Linked DNA regions of Homo sapiens: regions 1, 3, 4 and 5 are each linked to region 2. Evidence: fine-mapped expression QTL. A gene starts in region 2. Each other region holds a variant in brackets. All regions are shown on one strand. Distances are between the middles of the regions.

What was found. PIP is the estimated chance that this variant, and not a neighbour inherited with it, causes the effect.
Region 1: its variant is fine-mapped to the expression of PIK3C2B in whole blood (TOPMed, PIP above 0.99).
Region 3: its variant is fine-mapped to the expression of PIK3C2B in whole blood (TOPMed, PIP above 0.99). The same link has a PIP of 0.9 or more in sun-exposed skin.
Region 4: its variant is fine-mapped to the expression of PIK3C2B in whole blood (TOPMed, PIP above 0.99).
Region 5: its variant is fine-mapped to the expression of PIK3C2B in whole blood (TOPMed, PIP above 0.99).

What each region holds. Positions count from the first base shown.
Region 1 is chr1:204,439,447-204,443,838 of GRCh38, forward strand. It overlaps PIK3C2B (phosphatidylinositol-4-phosphate 3-kinase catalytic subunit type 2 beta), which reads right to left. Exons shown (of 33, transcript NM_001377334.1): 19 at 3,971-4,151; 20 at 3,080-3,187; 21 at 2,025-2,117; 22 at 746-875. Among named protein-coding and RNA genes, the nearest start is that of PPP1R15B, 30 kb to the left of the region's middle. The variant T/C (reference allele first, on the strand shown) is at 2,287.
Region 2 is chr1:204,492,625-204,497,016 of GRCh38, forward strand. PIK3C2B (phosphatidylinositol-4-phosphate 3-kinase catalytic subunit type 2 beta) reads right to left here and starts at 2,181. Exons shown (of 33, transcript NM_001377334.1): 1 at 1,732-2,181. LOC124904584 (translation initiation factor IF-2) reads left to right here. Exons shown (of 2, transcript XM_047439554.1): 2 at 1,552-3,108. The coding sequence ends at 2,572. RefSeq lists silencers at 222-301, 1,861-2,330 and enhancers at 1,371-1,560, 1,631-1,760.
Region 3 is chr1:204,452,031-204,456,422 of GRCh38, forward strand. PIK3C2B (phosphatidylinositol-4-phosphate 3-kinase catalytic subunit type 2 beta) reads right to left here. Exons shown (of 33, transcript NM_001377334.1): 11 at 3,826-4,021; 12 at 2,639-2,761. Among named protein-coding and RNA genes, the nearest start is that of PIK3C2B, 41 kb to the right of the region's middle. RefSeq lists enhancers at 1,098-1,207, 2,800-3,777. The variant G/A (reference allele first, on the strand shown) is at 2,653.
Region 4 is chr1:204,513,109-204,517,500 of GRCh38, forward strand. MDM4 (MDM4 regulator of p53) reads left to right here and starts at 3,298. Exons shown (of 11, transcript NM_002393.5): 1 at 3,298-3,401. RefSeq lists enhancers at 1,780-2,691, 2,552-3,751, 2,692-3,602, 3,041-3,170, 3,181-3,260 and 1 more. The variant A/G (reference allele first, on the strand shown) is at 2,321.
Region 5 is chr1:204,459,498-204,463,889 of GRCh38, forward strand. PIK3C2B (phosphatidylinositol-4-phosphate 3-kinase catalytic subunit type 2 beta) reads right to left here. Exons shown (of 33, transcript NM_001377334.1): 6 at 1,053-1,164; 7 at 827-906; 8 at 381-444. Among named protein-coding and RNA genes, the nearest start is that of PIK3C2B, 33 kb to the right of the region's middle. RefSeq lists a silencer at 2,704-2,998. The variant G/A (reference allele first, on the strand shown) is at 2,255.

The DNA.
Region 1 (4,392 bases), 53 kb before region 2:
ACTCCCTGCCACCTTGGTTGGAGTATTTTAAAGCAAATCCCAGATACTTTATTTCACTCATAAATATTTCAAGTGTAATTAACAAAGACACCATGCCATTGTCACATCCAAAAAATTAACAATCACTCTTTAATCTAACTCAATCTATATTCAAACTTCCCCCAACTGTCTCTCTCCTTCTCTCTCTCTCTCTATATATATATTTTCACACAGGGTCTCATTCTGTCGCCTGGTCTGAAGTACAGTGGCACCATCATGGCTTACTGCAGCCTCAAATTCCTGGACTCAAGCGATCCATCTGCCTCAGCCTCCCGAGGAGGTGGGACTGCAGGCACATGCCATTAGGCCTGGCTAATTTTTTATAATTTTTATTAGAGATGAGGTGTCTAGGTTGGTCCCAAACATTCCTGAGCTCAAGCAATTCTCCCATCTCAGCTTCACAAAGTGCTGGGATTACAGGCATGAGCTAGCATGTCTGGCCCAAAAAATATTTCCTTACAATTGGTTTGTTTTAATCAGGATCCAAAGTCTACACAATATGCTTGGCTGTCACGGCACCAAGTCTGTTTTACTTTATAACAGTCTTCTCCCATGCCTCCCTTTTAAGGCTATCCCACAGCTTCTCATGAAATAATCTTGCCCTTTTCACTTTCCTGGAGGAGGACACAGTTTGTGTTGGCAATGGGCAGAAGGACAATAAGCAAAGCGGTCCCCTCCTCCACCCTCACCCCTACTCCCAACTGACCTCTGCCCCGGCCGGTGGAGAAGCAGCGGAAGATGACCATGCGCATGTCCAGCCCCTCCTGGACCCAGATCTTGCTCATGATGCGAATCATCTGCAGCGTTAGCATGTCCTGGCGAAGGTCGTCCCCACACTGGATGGAGGGAGAAAGTGACCAGATCTAATCTCCACTACCTCCCCAGCTCTCAGGTCTCCCAAGTGCTCAACCTTGGCCCTAAACTAACAGTGACAGGGAGTTCCCCAGCCTCACACCCCTGACCTGCTCACTCAGCTCACACCAGGTCAAAGATGGCCCAGGAAGCTTCCCAGTTTGCCCATGTGTTGTTCCAGCTTGTCCTGCAATCCCATGGCCCCATCTGAATTAAATTCACGGTCTGCTTCTGCATGCAGCCCCTCTGACCATCAGGCCTTTTTTTTTTTTTTTTTGAGACAGTGTCTCACTTTGTCACCCAGGCTGGAGTGCAGTGGCACGATCTCAGCTCACCGCAACCTCCGCCTCCCAGGTTCAAGTGATTCTCATGCCTCAGCCTCCCAAGTAGCTGGAATTACAGGTGCCTGCCACCACGCCCAGCTAATTTATATATATATATATATATATATTTTTAGTAGAGATGGGGTCTCACCATCTTGGCCAGGCTGGTCTCAAACTCCTGACCTCAAATGATCTGCATGCCTCAGCCTCCCAAAGTGCTGGGATTATAGGCATGAGGCACCACACCCAGGCCATCAGGCCTTTTTTAAACTTGAACGTTTAGACTTTGGATTTGGAACTTGCGCATAGCAAATATATAAGTTACTAAGTCACATGCATGTATTTTGTCTCCCCCATTAGATTATATGCTCTGAGACTATCATTTACTTCTCAGAATTGTGGATACATCAGAGTTAGAAGGGACCTTAGGGTTCATCTAGTTGGACCTGCACCTGATATATTAATTTCCTCTTCAGCAGCCCTGCCACATGGCATTCAGCCTCTGCCTGAATACCCAAGGGACAAGCGGATCACCACCTTACCCAACCCATTGTTGAGGGAGCTCTGCCTCCTAGAAAGCACTTCGGGATACTGAGCTGCCAGTTGCCTCCCTATACCTAACACTCTGTTGTTAGGCCTCTGGGGCCATGCAGAATTCATCTAAATCCTTTTTCACCTGATCATCTTTCCTACATTAAGACAGCATGGAACAGTGGGAAGAGAACCACCCAGGGGCTACTTAATGCCACTCTAGGCTGCCTCCTTCTCTCTCCCACCCTGGTCCACCAGGCTTGAGTAAAGTATTCTCACCTTGAAGATGACACGGATGTTCTCACCCAGGGGATCCACATTTTGGAAGGAGAGTTTGAGGGGGACAGCATTGGAGTTGAAGTAGGAACAGTCCTGCCATGGTGAAAAGATAGTGACGAGGGTCAGAGTGGCCCATGCCAGGAAAGGAAAACGACCTCTCCACTTCAGACCAAGATGCTGCCTCCCCGCTGCTGCCGGTCCACCCAAGACCTGCTCATTGTTTCTTCCGGATTTCCCAGAAACCCAATTTCCTTCCTTCTCT[T/C]GTTAAATAGTCATCATCCCAATTCAGTTTGTTATGACCTCAGCTCCAGCACTTAACCTCCCATCCTGTTAGTTCATTCTGCGCACAACTTACTAGTTGTGTGACCTCTGGTAAGTCACATGTCCCATCTACACCTCAGTTTACTCCTCTGTAAAAGGGGACTCCCAATAGTACCAACATCCTAAGAGTTGTGAAGATGAAATGCCATAACCAACATTAAGCACTCAGAACAGGGCCGGGCACAGAGAGTGCTCAATAAATGACAGATGACAGCTGCTATCACCACCACCACCTCCGACTTCATCCCCAACATCATCAGAGAAAGACACCTGCCTAGCCGCCCAACCTCCAACCCAATTCCTCTACCCTGCAAGCTGTCAGGCTTCTAAAAGTCCATACACATTAGGAATGGGAAGAGGCCACAGATATGCCTTTCTTCCTAATCTCTCTCTTATTTTATGGCTTATATGGAGATGCTCACCTGTGCCCATACCCCCGTCTGTGCCCTCATTCTGTCTTTAAGCAGAGTTCACAGCCCCTCTGCCTCGTTTCTCCTTTCTATTTCTGCCATGTGTGGGTAGAGGAGAGACAGGATAACATAATCCTCACCATGTTGCATGGGGGTGAGCTGAGACCCCTGAGGAAAAGATGCTAGGCCAAGACCACATGGTAAGTTAGCAACATACTGACGCCCAGACAACTCAGCTCCTCGACCTTGCATGCCTGGTTAGTGAAGACCTCACCTCCACTGAGCCCTCCCACTCTGAGAGCCCCAAACCTACCAGTCACTCACCCTGGGCACAATTCCCTTAACCAGCAGACTGGGGCTGAGTGGCAAGCGGCACGAGCCATTGAGGGCAAAGAACTGCTTCACCTCCTCCAGGCCCGTGCGGAGGATTCCCTGGAAAGAAGGGGAGGAGTACAGCAGGGGTGAAATGGAGGGTCCATACTGAGAACCAGACCTCTCCCAGGGGTGGGTTCTCCGTAGTAGTCGGTATGAAAACCACCCCCTGAGAAGTGTGGACACCCTCCAGAAGATCCTTAAGGAGGAGGACCCCCTACACCCCAGCCTGGGACTGTACGCTAACAGCAAGACCAAATAGCTCTAGAGGGGAGCAGATGGCAGAACAGCATGAAGCAGGCCACAGTGCACAGAGAGGGCAGGCTGTCTCTCAAGGGGGAAGAGCTATTTAGGCTTCTGCCAAGAAAAGCTAACAATCTGGACGTTGATACAAAATCTCTCAATTTTTAAATGTCGTTAACCAGGAACACTGCTGGCTGGTTACAATGTCTTCGTACAAACAGATAAAGGTGTCCTCTCTGGGTGGCATCAGGCCTGAGCCATGGGTCACAGCATGGTGAACAAAATATGGCTGGATTTCAGCCCTCACTTGCCCCTTCTGGCTGAGTGCTCTTGTGCAATGAACAACTTACACAACTGTGCTTAGCCTTTAAAACAAACAGCTAAATAAATTTCAATATTTTACAGGACAAACAAAACACATCCACGGGCTGTATCCAGCTTGTGGACTGCCTGTTTACGGCCTAGTTTCCAGAGTCAGCTGCTCCCCGCTCCAAAATCAAAAATCGTCACGTGGAATCTTGTTGTTCAGGATTCCTAAGAAGAAACTGGCTGCCAAAGCCCTGGATGAGAAATGGGTAGGGGCAGCCTCACCCCACTAACCTGCCTTGCAGATGGGGCTGCCTCCCGGACCTGCTGGGCCAGTTTGGCCAGGGCATTGACAAGCCAGCACTGGCGGTTAAACTCTTCTCTCAGCCCCTTGCCACAGCAGCACAGTAAGGCTGCCAGCAGATACTGGTAGCGGATGCTGAACTGAGAGTCCTTGAGGCCGTCCTTCAGTAACCTGCAAGGCAGAGGGAGTCAGGAGTCAGGGCACTCCAGGGATCAAAGGCAAGGGTACAGGGGGAGACAGAGTCAGGCCCAGCTCCAACTCACTGCAAAACCCACCCCGAACTTGGGAGGGAAAATACATTCTGTATGTACGGCTCATATGGAGATGCTCACCTGTGCCCATACCCCAGTCTGTGCCCTCACTCTGTCTTTAAGTAGAGTTCACAGCCCCTCTGCATCTTGTTTCTCCTTTC
Region 2 (4,392 bases):
ACAAAGACCAAAGGCATTCCAGACCACCAAGGAAGTCCAAAGGAGCTCCCCCAGAAACAGCCCAAGTCCCCAGATAAACTGACCCTTCCTCACCCAGCACACCCCCTTGGCCCTTTCTCACTCATGCTTCCAGTGGAGAAGGAAATAGACAAGCAGCCGGGTCTGAGAGCTTGATCAGATTCAGCCATACACACTCAGCAGTAAGCTCAGAGCCATGGCAATCAAACCTCAGGCTCACCCAAAGGCCAAAGGAGAAGCAGCCACAGCCTGGGTCTAGGGCTCCAGCTCAGAGCCACCATCTCTTCAGATGCTGGCTGCCAAGCAGAGCTATAAAATGTGCCTCGACTTAATTTTTCCATGGACACAACCTCAAGATGGGCCAGCCAGACTCTGGAGGAGCTGGGATTCCAAAGTCTCACTGCCTGTCTGCTCTGGGATCGGCAGCTGGAGTTGGGGAGAGGGAAGTATTTGGGGGTCGGCATTGCCACCTCCTGGGCCATTTCTCTTCCTAATATCTTCCCAAAGCCTGATGCAGCAACAGAGTAAGTTTTCATTCAGCACTGATTCAGGGTTGGAATTTAGTACAAATTGCTTACATCTGCCTGGCCATATCCCAAATAGGTAGTTTAGAGCAAGGAGGAGGGGCAGCATTGGCCCACTTCTTGGAGCCCGGGTAGCCGCCTGCTAAAGAATCTGGTGCCATGCTGGGACCAGCCAGCCCAGGGTACAAAACTCTCCAACAGAGTTGAGAAAAAACAGCCCAAGAGAGCTGCCAGAGACAATACAGCGATTCCATCCCAGGCATGATTGGAAGGGCTGGGGCAGGGAAGCTACGAAGACCCCAGAAGCGGGTGGAGAGGAGAAAAGGCAGGCCTGAAGGAGCAAGAGCAATGGCAGAAAACACACACACACACACACACACACACACACTTCAACATCAGCCAACTAGGGTGTGTGCACTAACCTCATACATTTGGTAACCTCTTCCCACAATCCAGAAGCCTGCCAAGCCCCTGGGCTCCCCACCCTACTCCACCCCACACCAGCTTGGCAGCCTTGCTTGTGCTTCCTGCTGCGATTGCTCCTCCAACATCAAAGTCACCGCTGTCGGGAGCTGAAAATGAGGGACAAGTATAGGCCAGGAGAGCAGCGCCTTCTCCCAGCACCGGCGAACTCAGGCCTGAGGGTCCCTCTCCCTCTTTCAAGCTTTCAGTCTCCTTTTGCTGCAGTATCCTTATAAGGGAGAATCCAATTCTACCCTCCGCCCGACTAAGAAACGTACACATTCCCCAGGCTAGATGCCGACTTCTCACCCAGTCCACAGAAGGCACTAACCCCATCACAGGACAGGTTTTGCTTTTTTTATTTCTTATCTTAAATAAACAAACCCCAAAGCCATTGACTGGTTCAGATCGCCCTGCAGCTGGGAGCCAGGAAGTGTGTTTAGCGAGAAGGGGGTGGGGACGCGGGTGCCTGGAGCCCCAGAGGCCCTGAAGCTGCTGGAGTGGAGTGGAGTGGGGTGAGGGGCAACCTGCTCTGCCCGGCGGGCAGGAGCTCAGGCTCCCACGGCGTCCGCCGCTCAGCCCGCCGCCAGGAACCCTCGGCTGCTTCCATTGTTGCACCTCCGCTGTTGCCATGTTGGAGGGAGAGCCCCCTGACCTCGGCTGCCTCCACTCTGGGGGCACTTTACAGACGCTGGGGCCGATGCAACCCGCAGGATGCGTGTCCTACCTGCGCTAGCTGCTGGCTCTGCTGCAACATCCGACGTGTCTTGTGCCTGGCGACGTGGGCTGCTCGCTCCGCGCCTCCCGGGCTCGCTCTGCGGCTCCAGGCGCCTCTTGCACCAGCGCGAGAGGAGCTGGCCGGCCGCACGCCGCCTGCTCCCGGGCCGCTCCCCTCTCCAGGCTCCGCACAGACCCTAGGCTCCAAGGGGCAGAGGGAGAGGCAGCAAAGGGCGCAAGGACCAGCTTGTGGGGGTGGGGAGGGGTGCTCTCCGCCGAGAGCGTGCGCGAGCTCGCAGAGTCAGGCCACCCCGGGTGAGACAATAGCGGCAGCAGCGGGCGAGAGAGGGGAAGCCATCTCCCGGACACCCGGCGCACTGCACGGCGACGCGACGCTCGGCCAGACCCTGCCTGGACAGGCAGGCACCCGGCCGCCGGCTCCAGCCGCAGCGCCGAATCCGCCGCGAGCCGGAGGGCGGGGCGGCTGCTGGAACCCGGGCCGCCCTTCGCCTCTCCCCTCCCCTTCCCCCTCCTCTTCTCTTCTCCTCTCCTCCTCTCCCCTCCGACTCCCGCCCCACTTGCCATTGCGTGGGGGAAGAGAAACGCGCTGGCGTCAAGTTGTGCTCTGCAACCCAAGAGCCAGGATTTCCACTCCCCACTTGGGTGAGGGTTTTTGCGGATGGTCGTTAGTTTCCCCTGCTGGAACCCCTTGGCTTTGGGTCAGAGGAAAGCTCAATCATTCTGCTAGAAATGACGGTGCTGAGGTCCAGTTATCCGTTTCAGGAATTTCTACCATAATTACGGTAGCGATGTTCGGGGGATCCCCTACCTTGAGGGTTAGGTTGGGGTAGAGAGAGGCTGTCTCCGGGCTTTACACGCTCAGTGTCATTCGTCTTTCTGTCTCCTTCCTTCCTCCCTTTCTGGAAGGGGAGTCTCGTTTGTTTTTGTATTCGCCCAGGTGGATCTTCCGAGCTGCGATCCAGGAAACAGCAGTCAACCTAAGTAGGGAGGGGAGATAGAGGATCCTCCAACCCAACTAGGGTAGTGAGAAAAAAAAGTAAAAAAAAAAAACCTTTCATACAATATGTTATATTTAAATTTTCTACTCTAAATACCTTTCTTCCAGCAGTGGTCTCTGGAAGAATTTTCCTAAAGGCTCCACCCAAAAGAAACCATGAGTTGGCCAGCTCCTCGTTTGCATTTGGTTTGCATAGTACCAACGATCACTAATCTCAAAGTATATTTTCCTAAAAACGTGAATCGTGTTTTCCTCCACTGCCCTCATTTCTTCTTTCTTTCTCGACAGACTATGAAGATTAACACCTGGTCCTCAGCCTCTCAAGTAAAACCATGATTAAATAAATTTGTTATGCTTTTCTCTGGTTAACTTGTCTTTTGTTATAGAAGTGTCGGCTGTGACTCTTATGATGGGGAGGAAAGGGATCACTCCCCTTTCTGATCCTACAGTGCCTTCTGTACCCAATGCTTGTGACTTTCAGTATTCCACTTCACCCTCTGAATATCAAGAATAGCGTCCTCACCTATCACGCTTTCGTAATGATCAAAGGAGAGAATGTAGGTGAAACATCTTGATAATTAACTGAAGGCAGCTTGGTCTGCACATATGTCATAATGTATATGATGCTACTCCTGATCTCAGGAGCCACAGGGGTTAAAAAACGTGTCCGTGCACTTCTTCACCATACAAATATTTATGACAGCTTACTCTGTGTCTGTCATCAGGTCAAGCTCAGGAGCCTGAGAGAACAGAGTGTTACAGGGGCCACTGGTGGTTCTTTTTTTTTTTTTTTTTTTTGAGACGGAGTCTTGCTCTGTCGCCCAGGCTGGAGTGCAGTGGCGTGATCTCGGCTCGCTGCAAGCTCTGCCTCCCGGGTTCACGCCATTCTTCTGGCCCAGCCTCCGGAGTAGCTGGGACTACAGGCGCCCGCCACTATGCCCAGCTAATTTTTTCTTTTTTTTTTTTTTTTTTTTTGTATTTTTAGTAGAGACAGGGTTTCACCGTGTTAGCCAGGATGGTCTCGATCTCCTGACCTTGTGTTCCACCCACCTCGGCCTCCCAAAGTGCTGGGATTACAGGCGTGAGCCACCGCGCCCGGCGACCACTGGTGGTTCTATGCTGCTGGGGTGAAAAGTCTGAAGGAAAGAACTAACAGGAAGTAGGCATAGGTAGCTGAGTGGAGGATCAGATCACAGGCTTTATCATGCATTTTGGTAAGGAAAAAATTGAATAAAGAGAAACCAGGGCATGCCAAAAAGTTTAGGTGCTGTAGGTGACAGAGAACCTGCTGTGCACAAATGGAACTGGGAAGTAGTGTGACCAGAAAAAGACTTCCTGGCATATTATAGAGAAGGATTTGGAAGATGCACTGCATGTCTTCCGTTTGCCCCTCCAGATCTTCCTGGCCCTCTGGCTTCCTAGACTGGGTTGGCCAATGGGGGCCATGGCTGAAGATTGAATAAGGAGGGAGGTCAGGGGAAACTGGATATTTATTCTTCAGGATTCCTCTCTTTGGGGTCACAGTGCGCTGGCTGCCACCCTCAACCAAAGATCACAGCTTCCACGGGTGGTTCTCTCTCCCCTCCCTCTCTCTTTTGTTTTTCTTTTTTTCTTTTTCTTGAGACCGAGTCTCACTCTATTGCCCAGGCTGGA
Region 3 (4,392 bases), 41 kb before region 2:
CCCCAAATGTCCTGGTCTTGACCATGAAGGGCCAAGAAGTCTCATTCGGGGCTTCTGGATGGACAGTGCAAGATAGTGCCCTTCACAAGGCGCTAGGCAGGGGACTGCCCCTTTAAAATTCAAGGTGGGGATCTCAGGGAACAAAATGAAACTCATGGGGCAGGCTGGGCTGCCTCTCTACCTCTGATACTGTATGAGTAAAGGGTTTAAGGCCAATTTTTTAAAGTTCCTCCTGGGCCAGAACACTGTGCAGCACCCTTTTTTTTTTTTTTTTTTTTTTTTTGAGACAGGGTCTCGCTCTGTTGCCGAGGCTGGATACTCACTGCAGCCTTGACCTCCCAGGCTCAAGTGATTCTCCCACCTCAGCCTCCTAAGTAGCTGGAACCACAGGTGTATGCCACCACACTTGGCTAATTTTTTGTATTTTTTGTAGAGATTGGGTCTCCCTTGTTGCCCAGGCTGGCACCCCTTCTCTTGACAGCAGCAGTAATTGTGACCAAAAAATCCCAAGGGAATGGTGGAACTCAAGGGCCATTTAATGCAGCTATCCTCTGCCTGCAAGGAGTTTCTCCTGTCCTGGCAGTTGTTTGCTTGAGGACCTTTAATGCACACCCCATGTCCTTTTTTTTTTTTTTTTTTTTTAAGATAGGGTCTCACTCTGTTGCCCAGGCTATAGTGCAGTGGTGTGATCATGGCTCACTGCAGCCTCGACCTCCCAGGCTCAAGTGACTCTCCCACCTCAGCCTCTTAAGTAGCTAGGACTACAGATGCACGCCACCACACTCAGCTCATTTAAAATAATTTTTTAGTAGAGATAAGGCCTCTTTGTGTTGCCCAGGCTGGTCTCAAATTCCTGATCTCAAGTGATTATCCCGCCTTGTCCTCCCAAAGTACGGTGAGACTACAGGTGTGAGCCATCGTGCCCAGCCATATACACCTTTATTGCTCTAAGAATTACCTAAGTGTGAAGGGCATGAGAAAGGGTCCATTTTCCCAGTTGTCCATCTGTAAAAGGACCCACCTCTTCCAGCATCTCCAGATTCTTCATCTACCTATTTTGCATCCTCGGCCTCCCCAGGACCCTCCTCAGTCTCTTTAATCTGTGCTACAAATACTTAGCTTGCAGTGCTGCTCTGCAAATGAGGACTCTAATATAGTCAGTGTGGGGAAGCAAAGCCGGGGGCAGCAAACAGGGGATTTTCTGACTGACTGGAAGGAAGGTAGAGCATAGCACAGATGAAGCACAGGGCAGGAAAACCCCTGCGGTGCCCCCATTCAAGCAAGGCACCCTCTCCTCCGTTTCCTTCCTGCTTTGCTTGGCTGACGCCTACCTTCCCGACACCAAATTATTGTTTACATGTGGTGATTAATATTACCTTGTGCTTTTGGTTTCATATTTATATTTATAACCCACCTATCTCATCTCGACGCCATAACTGCCTCTGAGTGAAACCAATGTCCCCATTTCTCAGTTTGAAAAAATGAGGCACAGAAAGAATAGAGAGAAAGTAGTATTCGAGACAGAGCTAGAAATAGAGGCTCACTCCTGGGAATCCAAGCTCAATATTCTTTCTCTAGACAACCCTCCCTTCTCTATATATAAAGGGAAAAGCACAGTCTCCTCTCCATAGTCTACAGGAACTGAGGGAAGAAGGGAGAGGATGAGAAGCCCTCCAACTAGTTAAACTCTTTAAGGGAGACAAGATCAAAAAATAAAGTATTATTAAAATTAACAACTAACATTTAATTTTTTTTTTTTTGAGACAGAATTTCGCTCTTGTTGCCCAGGCTGGAGTGCAATGGCACGATCTCAGCTCACTACAACCTCCACCTCCCGGGTTCAAGCGATTCTCCTGCCTCAGCCTCCCTAGTAGCTGGGATTACAGGCATGCGCCACCATGCCCGGCTATTTTGTATTTTTTTTAGTAGAGACGAGGTTTCTCCATGTTGGTCAGGCTGGTCTTGAACTCCCTGCCTCAGGTGATCCGCCCGCCTCGGCCTCCCAAAGCGCTGGGATTACAAGCGTAAGCCACCGCGCCTGGTCAACAACTAAAATTTATATGTTTTTTATGGTTTACAAAGAGCCTTTATAGATACTTCTCATTGGATCCTCATGACAACTTGAGAAGTGGTAATTATACTTGGCTCCTTTAAGAGTCAGGGAAGTGGAGGCCAGGCGTGGTGGCTCACGCCTGTAATCCCAGCACTCTGGGAGGCCGAGGCGGGCAGATCACGAGGTCAGGAGATCGAGACTATCCTAGCTAACACATGGAAACCCCATCTCTGCTAAAAATACAAAAAATTAGCTGGGCGTGGTGGCGGGCGCCTGTAGTCCCAGCTACTCGGGAGGCTGAGACAGAAGAATGGCGTGAACCCAGGAGGCAGAGCTTGCAGTGAGCCGAGATCGCACCACTGCACTCCAGCTTGGGCAACAAAGCGAGGCTGCCTCTCAAAAAAAAAAAAAAAAAAAGAGTCAGGGAAGTGGAGACTCAAGAGGTTGAATGACTTGTCCAGTTAGGGTTAACAAGGAGCCTGGTTTTATCATTAGTCCTGGACTAGTTATCTGGCCCCAGGGATATTTCAGAGGCTGAGCAGGTCTACAGTGGCCTGGGCACTGAAGCCTGGGGGAAGGGCTTACTGCTGGTCCCAGAC[G/A]ATGAGGTGGAAGAGGTACTTGGAGAAGTGAGCTCTTCGGGTCTGCAGGGGGCTGCACAGCTCCTTGCCGCCATGGCTGAGGGAGCAGGAGAGGTAGAAATCTTCATAGCTATAAAAGAAAGGGAGCAGGTCAGGACACCCAGCTCCCAAAACCAATCACCCAAACCTATGCGTCCCTCTAAGGCCAAAATCCATTTCCCCTGGTAAAACTCTCAGTCTCTGAGGGCTGTAACACAGGATCTCCGGATAGGACAGCCAAACTGGATGTAAGGAAATGTGCTCAGGCCAAAGCAACTCAATCTAGATTCCTCTGCTCGGTTTTAGGCTCCATTCTGAGCCTTGTTGTTTTTCTTCCTTTAATGGGAACTGGCCACCCAGCCTCTTTATAGAAAGCTCCAGCCCATGGAGCGTCTGTGTGTGCGTGCGTGTGTGCGCGTGCACGTGCATGCGCAAGTGAGAAGGGTGGGGGAGGAAGACGACATATGCCGACATGAATGCCAACACACGGGGGTCCCTGTGGCTCATGACAGGTGCCTGACAGAAGAGGTCAGAGAAGGCCCCGGTTTCCCAGGCTGCCTCCTTTGTTCTCTGCCAATCGCCCAGAGGAATACATTAAGTAAGGAACAAAGAGAGAAGGGGAAGGGGGTTGGGGAAAGGGGACCGGCAGGGGCGGGGTAGGGCCCAGTGCCTATTCCCTCAGGCCTTGGATGCTGGGGACCCAACAGAGGCGCTGAGGATTTTACCAAAAGAACATCCTCCTCCACCCACCCCTGCAGGCCTAGAGAACCCCAGACAAAGGGTCAATCCCACCTCCCCACCCCCTCCCACTGGCCAGGGAGCGTGCACTCTATCTGGGAATCGGCCATCTGTTGCCATGTCTCCTTCCACTGGTCTTGGATCTGGAGGGGGCAGGGATGCAGAGGCAGCCAGCACCAAGAGGGAATAACAGGATCTTCTTCATCTCCTAAGGGACCTCCTCTCTCCTCTAGGATGTCCCCAGCCCAAGTCCTCCTCAGGCACTTGGCTCACCCCCGCAGCCCCATTGCACCACAATGTCACACAATGCCACACATCCTAAGACTTAGGACAGTGGTATTACATGCAGATAGGAAAAAGCCCTGGTGGAGGTCAAACTCAGCTTGCTCCCTAGCGGCTACTCAGCCCTGGGCTCACCTGGTAGCCCAGATGATGGGGATGCGGTGGGTGGCATAGACAGTGAAGGCCAGGGACCTGGCGAAATGGCAGGCCTCCTGGACCAGGTCATGCTTGCGGCTCCCGGGCACTGCCGTCTGGAAGTCTGCGTTGAATGTGTTGCAGTACAGCTCCACCAGGTCCAAGATGGCAGCGGTCAGGGCTTCCACGACCTTCTCTGGGAAGGGAAGGGGTCAGAAGGGAAAGTCATGAGGCCTCCACAAGCCCTACCTTGTTGCCATGGCATTGGCTAGAATGGGATGGCCTAAGACAGTGGTCCCCAAATGCTAGTCAGTCTCTAATAGCTGTGACAAAGTTCACCCATCTGCGGTAAAATGAGAAAAAAGCAGAAGCATGTCATGAGCTTTTCATAAAATGACAGTTATACAATGTTAAACATAATCCTTATTTTTACGTATTGCTACTTAGCATTAAAATGTCCTTTCTTTTAGGAAACAGTGTTAATAATTATTGTCAGTTGCTTCAAAAAAGCAAAAGTCAAAAAAGTTTGGCCAAGTAAAAGGCTGCCAATTCTCTCTTGGTCCCCCA
Region 4 (4,392 bases), 20 kb after region 2:
AGAAATGGCTGAATTCAGCCATTTTGTTTTACAGATTAGGGAACTGAAGACCGGAAACCTGTGTAACTTCTTCTGTTTTCTACAAATAGCTAGACTAGAACCCAGATTTCCTGTCTTTTTATTCGAATCAATGGTTTGTGAGCATAGTTCTTAAAGAAGGAAGTGGTGATCACTCAGTTGAGTTTTTAAGCCAATTTCCAATTTCATTTCTTTCTTTCATTTCTTCTTTTTTTTTTTTTTGAGATGGAGTCTTCCTCTGTCGCCCACGCTGGAGCGTAGTGGCACGCGCCTGTAATCCCAGCAATTTGGGAGGGTGAGGCAGGAGAATCGTTTGAATCTGGGAGGCGGAGAATGCAGCGAGCTGAGATCGTGCCACTGCACTCCAGCCTGGCAACAGAAGGGAACTCCGTCTCAAAAACAAAACAAAACAAAACAAAACAAAATAACCACACACATAGAATTAGCTGGGCGTGCTGGCGGGTGCCACCTGTAGGATTATAAGATTACACCTGTAATCCTAACACTTTGGGAGGCCAAGGTGTGGGGGAGGATCACTTGAGGCCAGGAGTTCAAGACCAGACTGGGCGACATAGTAAGACCCTGTGTCTATTTTTTTAAAAAAATTAGAAGATGAGCAATTACTCACAAATCAGTGTCAACCACGATGGGAAAAACTCTATTCTTCACCATGGCCTCGTCAACATATTTATCAACGTTTTGTTTTTTTTGATTGACTGAGATAGAGTCTGGCTCCATCACCCAGGCTAGAGTGCAGTGGAGCAATCTCGACTCACTGCAATCTCCTCCTCCGGGTTCAAGCAATTCTCCTCCCTCAGCCTCCCGAGTAGCTGGGATTATAGGCGCCTACCACTGCACCCGGCTAATCTTTTTTGTATCTTTAGACAGTGTTTTACCATGTTGGCCAGGCTAGTCTCGAACTTCTGACCTCACGTGATCCACCTGCCTCGACCTCCCAAAGTGCTGGGATTACAGGCATAAGCCACTGCGCCGGGCCCTCGAGATTTTAAATGAAGACGAATTAAAGATGTTGGTCAATATTTTGCCCAAATTGAAAAGGCTTATCTCTCTTAACCTAGAGGAGGTTAACTGCAGCTCATCAATCATTGCACTTACCACATTCTTTTTACCTGGACAGTCTGATTCCTCCACTAGACAGATTTCAGGTCTTGTTTTGGAATCCTCTAGATTGGTGCTTGGCACAAGTAGGATGCTCAGCTAATTAATTTTTTTTTTTTTTTTTTTTTTTTTTTTTTTGTAGAGATGGTGTTCTCGCTTTCTTGCCCAGGCTGGTCTTGAACTCCTGGGCTTAAACGATCCTCCCACCTTGGCCTCCCAAAGGGTTGGGATTACAGGTGTGAGCCACTGCACCTGGCCTCAACAAATACCTGTTGATCTCACACAAACTGAATTGCATGAACAGATCATATTCCAAGGCTCCAGGAGACATTAGGAAAGGATCCAAACTAACCAGATGCTATTTAAAAGTTACAAAAAAAAAATTCCTGTTGAAAGTTTTAAAAAATACTAATTGCACAAAAGGACAGGGGAAATAGTTGACAGTGGTTCACCTAAAAAAGCACCCTTGACCTTTTTTTTTTTTTTTTTGTGAGTGAGGTGGTTGCAGATTTCTATGAAAAAGAAGTTAATTCTTCAGCTCCTTAATGGAACCCTGGATCTCCCAGCTATGCAGGAGGTTATGCTAGAAGTAGAACAAAGCGGAATGTACAAATTTAAGGAAGGTTACTGCCCTGTGTTCTTTTGCATGGGTCTGTATCTAGCATTGGGAGCCAGGTTTTGTTGTTGCTTATTGGGAGAGATAAGAATGGTATATACACAAATAACTAAAAAAAAAATACGTGGTAAATGCTAAAAGACAGGTGCAAAGAACACTGAGATGGAGCTTTCTTGGGTTACACAGCCAGTTTTAATGTTTCCTAATATAGAAGAGCTTTCAACAAACCTCTCAGGCAGGCTGTCTTCAAATGACATTACTTCCCCCAAATACCTAATTTCATTTATTTCAGAACAACTCTAAATGTTAGAGGATTTTCTGAGCTTAAAAATACTGCCTTGTAATTTCTATTGGTTTTAGTTCTGCACTTTGGAGAAGAGAATAAGGCTCCGTTATTTCCAATATTATACTATTCAGTTATTTGAAGACAGCTTCCAATTTCTATGCTCAACCCTTTCCCTCTTTTTTTTTTTTTTTTTTTTTGAGATGCAGTTTCGCTCTTGTCGCCCAGGCTGGAGTGCAATGGCGCTATCTCGGCTCACTGCAACCTCCGCCACCCGGGTTCAA[A/G]CGATTCTCCTGCCTCGGCCTCCTAAGTAGCTGGGATTACAGGTGACCGCCACCATGCCCCGCTAATTTTTTGTATTTTTAGTAGAAACGGGGGTTTCGCCATGTTGGGCAGGATGGTCTCGAACTGCTGACCTCAGGTGATCCGCCCGCCTCGGCCTCCCAAAGTGCGCTGGGATTACAGGGGAGAGCCACTGCGCCCGGCCTCCCTCGTTTATATGCAGGTTAAAAACTCCCTTGAGCCTTCAACTATTTCTTTTTCTTTTTTTTTTTTTTTTTTGAGGAGTTTCGCTCTTGTTGCCCAGGCTGGAATGGCGCTATCTCGGCTCACTGCAACCTCCGCCTCCCAAGTTCAAACGATTCTCCTGAGTAGCTGGGATTACAGGCATGCGCCACCACACCCGACTAATTTTGTATTTTTAGTAGAAACAGGGTTTCACCATATTGGTCAGACTGGTCTCGAACTCCTGACCTCAGGTGATCCGCCTGCCTTAGGCCTCCCAAAGTGCTGGGATTACAGGCGTGAGCCACAGCGGCTGGTGCTTTCAACTATTTATTTGACATGGCTTCAAGCTTCCTTGCCACCCTAGTGCCGCCATCGCTCCGTTTCCCTTCCCTACCACCCTTGGGGAGTAAGGGTGAGGACTGGGGAATGGCAGAGGAAGCGTAGTTTTTCCGAAGAGCTGAAGGCAGCCTGTGATTATGACCTTAGCTCTTCCTCTTCTCTGTTTTCTGATCTCCTAATACACGTCTGTAAATATCACAAGACCCTGCAAGTCCCTCACTTATTATCTCTTCAAATCTGACGACTTTCAACCGTTCGGGCCCCACGACTCTCTCCCCGGACTAGGATCTACTCTATGGTAGTGAGCTCAGCCTTTCTAGCTCTCTAGTCCTCCCATTGCTCCATCTATGGTTTCCGGAGGCCTCACCGGAAGCCCTCGTGTGAGGCCGTGTGGGAGGCCGGAAGTTGCGGCTTCATTACTCGCCATTTCAAAATGCTGCCGAGGCCCTAGGATCTGTGACTGCCACCCCTCCCCCCACCCGGGCTCGGCGGGGGAGCGACTCATGGAGCTGCCGTAAGGTGTGGCTCTTGGCCTTCGTCGGCGGGGTGCCGGGAGCGGGAGCTGGAGAGTGAGGAGCAGGCGGCCGTACCGCCAGTTGTGCGGGTAGCGGGCGGGAGGAGCTTGAGAGGTGGGTCGGGCGGCGTGGGGAAGGCCGCGCCAGGCGGAAGAAGGGCTCGGGGGGAGGGGAAGAGTTGTGGGATGAGGGCTCGCGGAAGATAAAAGTGGAGGTGGGGTGACGTGAAGTAACTTTGGCCAACAGGTGACAAACCTAAAGTCGACGTAGTTGGATTGAGTTTAACTGGACACAACATTTGAGGACTGTTGAGGCAATTTGGAGAAAGGAGGTGGGAGAGAGGGAACCGGGTAGAATGACATTGACGTGTCTTAAGTTTTTAAGTTAGTTTTTAGGTCTGCGGACAGTCTACCTTAGAGGCACTTGAGTGCTTGTTTGAAAATGCTTGTTTTGGCTTGGCGCGGTGGCTCACGCCTGTAATCCCAGCACTTCAGGAGGCCGAGGTGGGTGGATCTACCTGAGGACAGGAGTTCGAGACCAACCTGGCCAACCTGGTGAAACCCCGTCTCTAGTAAAAATACAAAAATATTAGATGTGTGTGGTGGCGCATGCCTGTAATCCTAGCTACTCGGGAGGCTGAGGCAGGAGAATCACTTGAATCCGTGGGCGGGGGTTGCAGTGAGTCGAGATCGCGCCACTGCACTCCAGCTTGGGCTACAGAGGGAGATTCCGTCTCAAAAAAAAAAAAAGAAAAAATGTTCGTTTTGGGGCCACACTGAAACCTACAGACAGTATCGAGATGGGGCTCAGAGAAATATATTTTAATGAGCACACCTCCCAGTGATTTTTGTATACCTTAAAGCTTGAAAACCACAGGTTTTTTTGGTTGTGTTTTTGTTTTGTTTTTGTTTTTTTTGAGTGGAGTTTCGCTCTTTTTGCCCAGGCTGGCGTGCAGTGGCGCGATCTTGGCTCACTGCAACTTCTGCCTCACGGGT
Region 5 (4,392 bases), 33 kb before region 2:
AACAGAACCTCTCAAACTGGAGGTTTCTGACATTGCTCATAGGATGCATGCTCCAGTGTACATCAAGTGCAGCAGCTGGGGGGTGACAGCTCTAGGTTCCTTAGCTCTGGAGACATCCTATTCCAGAGAATGGGACCAGCATGCAGTTTCCGACCTGCTTCTTCTATAGAGGAGCAGAATCCCTGACTACGCACTTGCCGTTGCCCAACATCTAGTAGTCTTAGTTTGCCCATGAGCGAGGGGTTAAAAAGAAGTGCTCTGCCAACAGATTTTCAGGCTCCACCCAGACCCCTCATAGTGCTGGGTGATCCCAGGAGGACTGAGGAAGGGGAGAGGAGGAGCTTTCGGGCAGCAGGGCCAGCCCCTGGATTCGTACTCACATCAGCCAGCAGGAAGGCATCCACCTCATTGTGGTAAGTGTCGAACAGAAGACTCAGGGCCTGCCTGGGAGTTGGGGGCAGGGAAAAACCACAGGAGAGGTCATGAAAGACCCAGTGCCCTGGGAAACCCATTTTCTCCCTCCCTCTCCTCAGCTCACACTCTGATTTAAAGGAGTTCCCACTCTTTCTATATGTCCTGTGAAGACATATAGAGGGAGAGTCTTTCTATTCTGCCACTTCTCGCCTGGAGAGAATGATGGCAAAGTTCCAGAGGGAAGAAATGAAACATGCCTGGAGTGGGGATCTTCTCTGATAAGATGTGTGGGCCCCAACCCCTGACACCTGCAAGAATCCCTTAGCCCTGACAGAAAGGCAAGCAGGCACATCTGATGGGATCCCTGCACAGTTCTTGTTTGGAGCACATCCAAGATGGTGCCCACACTCACCTGCTGATGGTCTGCTTGACAGGCCTCTCTTGGAGATGGACGAGGTAGTTCAAGGTGGAGGGGCTCTGGTCATCATTCACCTGTATAAGAAGTGACCTATTCAGAGAGGGGCGGTGCCCTTATCTCAGCTCAGCACTCCTACCCCCCTCCCACCTGATGTGTTCTATATTGTATTCCCATTCCACCTCCCCAGCCCTGGGCAACCCTCCACCACCCTCACACGAACCGTCCGGGCCAGGTCACTGCGCACAACCTTCTGCTCCATCAGCTGTAGCCGAATGTCAATGTCAAACTTGCGGCAGTATTGGATGTACTCATGACTGCCCAAGGCATGCTTGCTGGTAGGGTAGAGGGACAAGACCATTAGCATCCTGGGGACTCAGTGGCAAGGGAGATACATACCTTAGCCTTGGGGAGAGACATACAGAAAGAAGGTTTAGGTAAGGGGGTAGTACCCGTGTTGTACCCTACTTTGGCTCCTAGAAAATGACACGGTAGAGCTTAGGAGAAGGAACAGAGGTCTATCTAAACAAAAGCCACCTAATATACTTAATCCTTGGCCGGTATAAATATTGACTCTCTTAGATATTTATTACCCGTGTGGTAATCACTGGTTCACTCCAGGGCTGGGAACTGTTGGAGAGAGCGGGGAAACAGAGGCACATCACAGGGAGCAGTTGCTGAAGCCCTATCTTCTGGGCCTCTGTATAGGGGACAACCAGGAAGAGACATGTTGGAGTCCACCTGTGCTCAGGCTCCAGGGTGGGAGCTCAGCGAGAGACCCCTCTTCCAATGCTACCAACTAGGGTGCTGAGGCCAAAAAAACTTGGGGCAAGCCTACCAAGCCTCCAGATCAGTGTCCCCACCCAACTTCTTTTTCTGCCTTCCATCTGTTGGCCCTGCCTGCTTGTGAATAACCTTACAAATTTCTATGACTTCTTGAAAAGTCCCAAATGCATGCCAGTCCCACCTGCTCAAGCACCCATGTGTGAGACTCCCCCTTTCAGAGAGAAGGCCTAGGAGCCCTCGGCGATCCAACCTCTTCCTCTCTCCCAAATCACACCTTCAACAGCAAGGAAACCCAAGAGGAGGGGCAGAGGGAGAACTACCTCCAGGCCAGCACTGCAGGCCTGGGCCTGGCCTCAGCAGCTGGGTAACAGAAGCCGGAAAAGGACTTCCTTCCTCAGCAGAGCTGGGAATCTAGGCCAGAAATGGAGAGGAGAGGACAGGAGCATAAGGGGGGCAGTATATGTAAAAGCTGGCGGAGGTGCAGGGCCCAGGGTCGTCTAGGTCCCATGAGGGCTCGAGTGAGGGGTTCTCCACATCCTGAGAGGACCAAATCTCCGATCTAGACCCTCTCAGATCTAAGACTGAAGTGCAGCCAAAACCTGGAGGTGGTGAGGCTGGGCTGTGGGGCTGGGCCTGGTG[G/A]GAGAGCCTGGGAGGAAGGAAGAGTGTGGTGGGGCTGGGGGAGGTGGCAGGAAACCCAACCCTCCCACGGGACTGCCTCAAGGTTCTTATCTGAGAGCAGCCTGCATCCTGAACCCACTCACCCCCTCAGTATCAGCCCCTCCTGCCAGGCAGGGGTAGAAAATCTCAGGGCTTCCTTGGGAACTAGCAGATTTCTGGAACCCCCGGAGCGTCCTTTCCACCCCCATCCCAGGCAGTTGTCATGTGTTGGGGGTCTGGGGGCTGGGCCAGGAGACAGCATTGTGCTTTTCTGTTGGGTGGGAGTGGGGCTCCTAGGCCAGGAGTCATGCACACAGGTCCCCTGGGGACTTGCTTGATCTTCTCTGTGGAAGGCCTTCCTCTCTGTGCATTCAAGTGAGAGTATGAGGGGTGTGATCTGAGGACCGCTGACCCTGTCCCACCTCACTAAGAATATTTCACCTGAGTCTTAGCAGGAAGGTAGAACTTGACAGCTCCCACTACCTCCGGACCCAGGGGCTCCAGGATTTGGGGTGCTGCAAGGGAAATGGCAGTATCTGTGCAGCCCAGAGCCCTAGGACTTCTCTCCGTGGGCTGCTCCTTCCCTGCTGGTATTTACTGATTGCTCACAGGTCATTCTCACATTTCACCCTCACTGCAGCTTACAGAGGGCCCTGAGCATCAATCAGCCTTCACAACTAGTAAGTGGCAAGTCCGAATTCAAACCTGTGTAATGGCGTCAGCAGGAGCTCCAACTTATCCACTATGTCCCCTTTTTCCCTTCTAACAGTGGCAGGCCACCTGGCACTCTCTCTGCCAGGCAACCCTGAGTCTAGGACCCCTCCTGTTCCTCTAGGGGAAAAGTGTGTACATAAGTGAGTTTAAAGGTGGGGCACATTTGAAGGGTACCCTGGAGTTGTACCATACAGAACCCTGCCTCTTTCCTTTCCCTTAGCTTCGAGATGAGGAGGCAGAGGCCAGAAAGGACCCCACAATATCCTTAAATTTGAAATAAGCCCAGATAGCTGGGCACAGTGGCTCACACCTGTAATCCCAGCACTTTGGGAGGCCAAGGCGGGCAGATCACCCGAGGTCAGGAGTTCGAGACCAGCCTGGCCAACATGGTGAAACCCAGTCTCTATTAAAAAATACAAAAATTAGCCGGGCGTGGTGGTGCTTATGCCTGTAATCCCAGCTACTCAGGAGGCTGAGGCATGAGAATCGCTTGAGCCTGGGAGACGGAGGTTGCAGTGAGCTGAGTGAGATGGCGCCACAGCACTCCAGCCTGCACGACAGAGTGAGACTCTGTCTCAAAAAAAGAAAGAAGTCCAGAAATGAATCTTCCATCCTGACTGCCAAATCTTATGCTCTAGACATAGATCAACCATCCTTGCATCTAGACCTGAATGTAAGAGAGAGAAAAAGCAAGCAGTGGCACTTATAGGGCACTCCTAAGAAGTGAGACACAGGTCTCTCCTTTCTCTATTCCCAAAACGTGCTTCCTCCAAGTGGACAGAGACTGGGGGCAGGAGCGGCTCTGAAGCCTAAGAGAGGAAAGCAGATCTTATCTGTCTGCTGTCACACAGCTGTACCATCTGAGAAGTGATAACCTTGCCCCTGCCTCTCTTCCACTGCAGCCCTCCAGAGCCCAGGGTAGTGGAAAGGGGGTTGCCTCAGCTGGTCCACATCAGACTTTCCAGGGAGGCTGCTTTCCAGAGAGGGCACTGGATGGAGAGGAGCTGGAGGCACGCCTTTGGGAGGAGGATAACTAGCTGCACGGGCCAGCTGGGGAAAAGACTTGTTGGCAGGAGAATGGGGAGAGACAGTAATTGTAATTTCTCCCCTGGGCTCCACAAGGGAACTTCTGCCCAGTCCTCATTTTGCCCCAGCCATAAAAACACCACACATAATCTAGAGCAGGAGATACAGCACTACCCATATAGTCTCCCCAAGCCCACCCCTCCCCACAAATACACACATCTCTCCATAAGCAGAATCTGCAAGCAGATATGACCTAGTCTTTGCCTAATCCCAGCTCCAAGCTCTTTCCACAGCAGACTTGGCTCAGGACGTCAGCCAACCCTGCTGGAAGACAGAGCTCCTGGGGAAAGTGCTACGTGGCCGAGAGTGTGCCCAGAAAG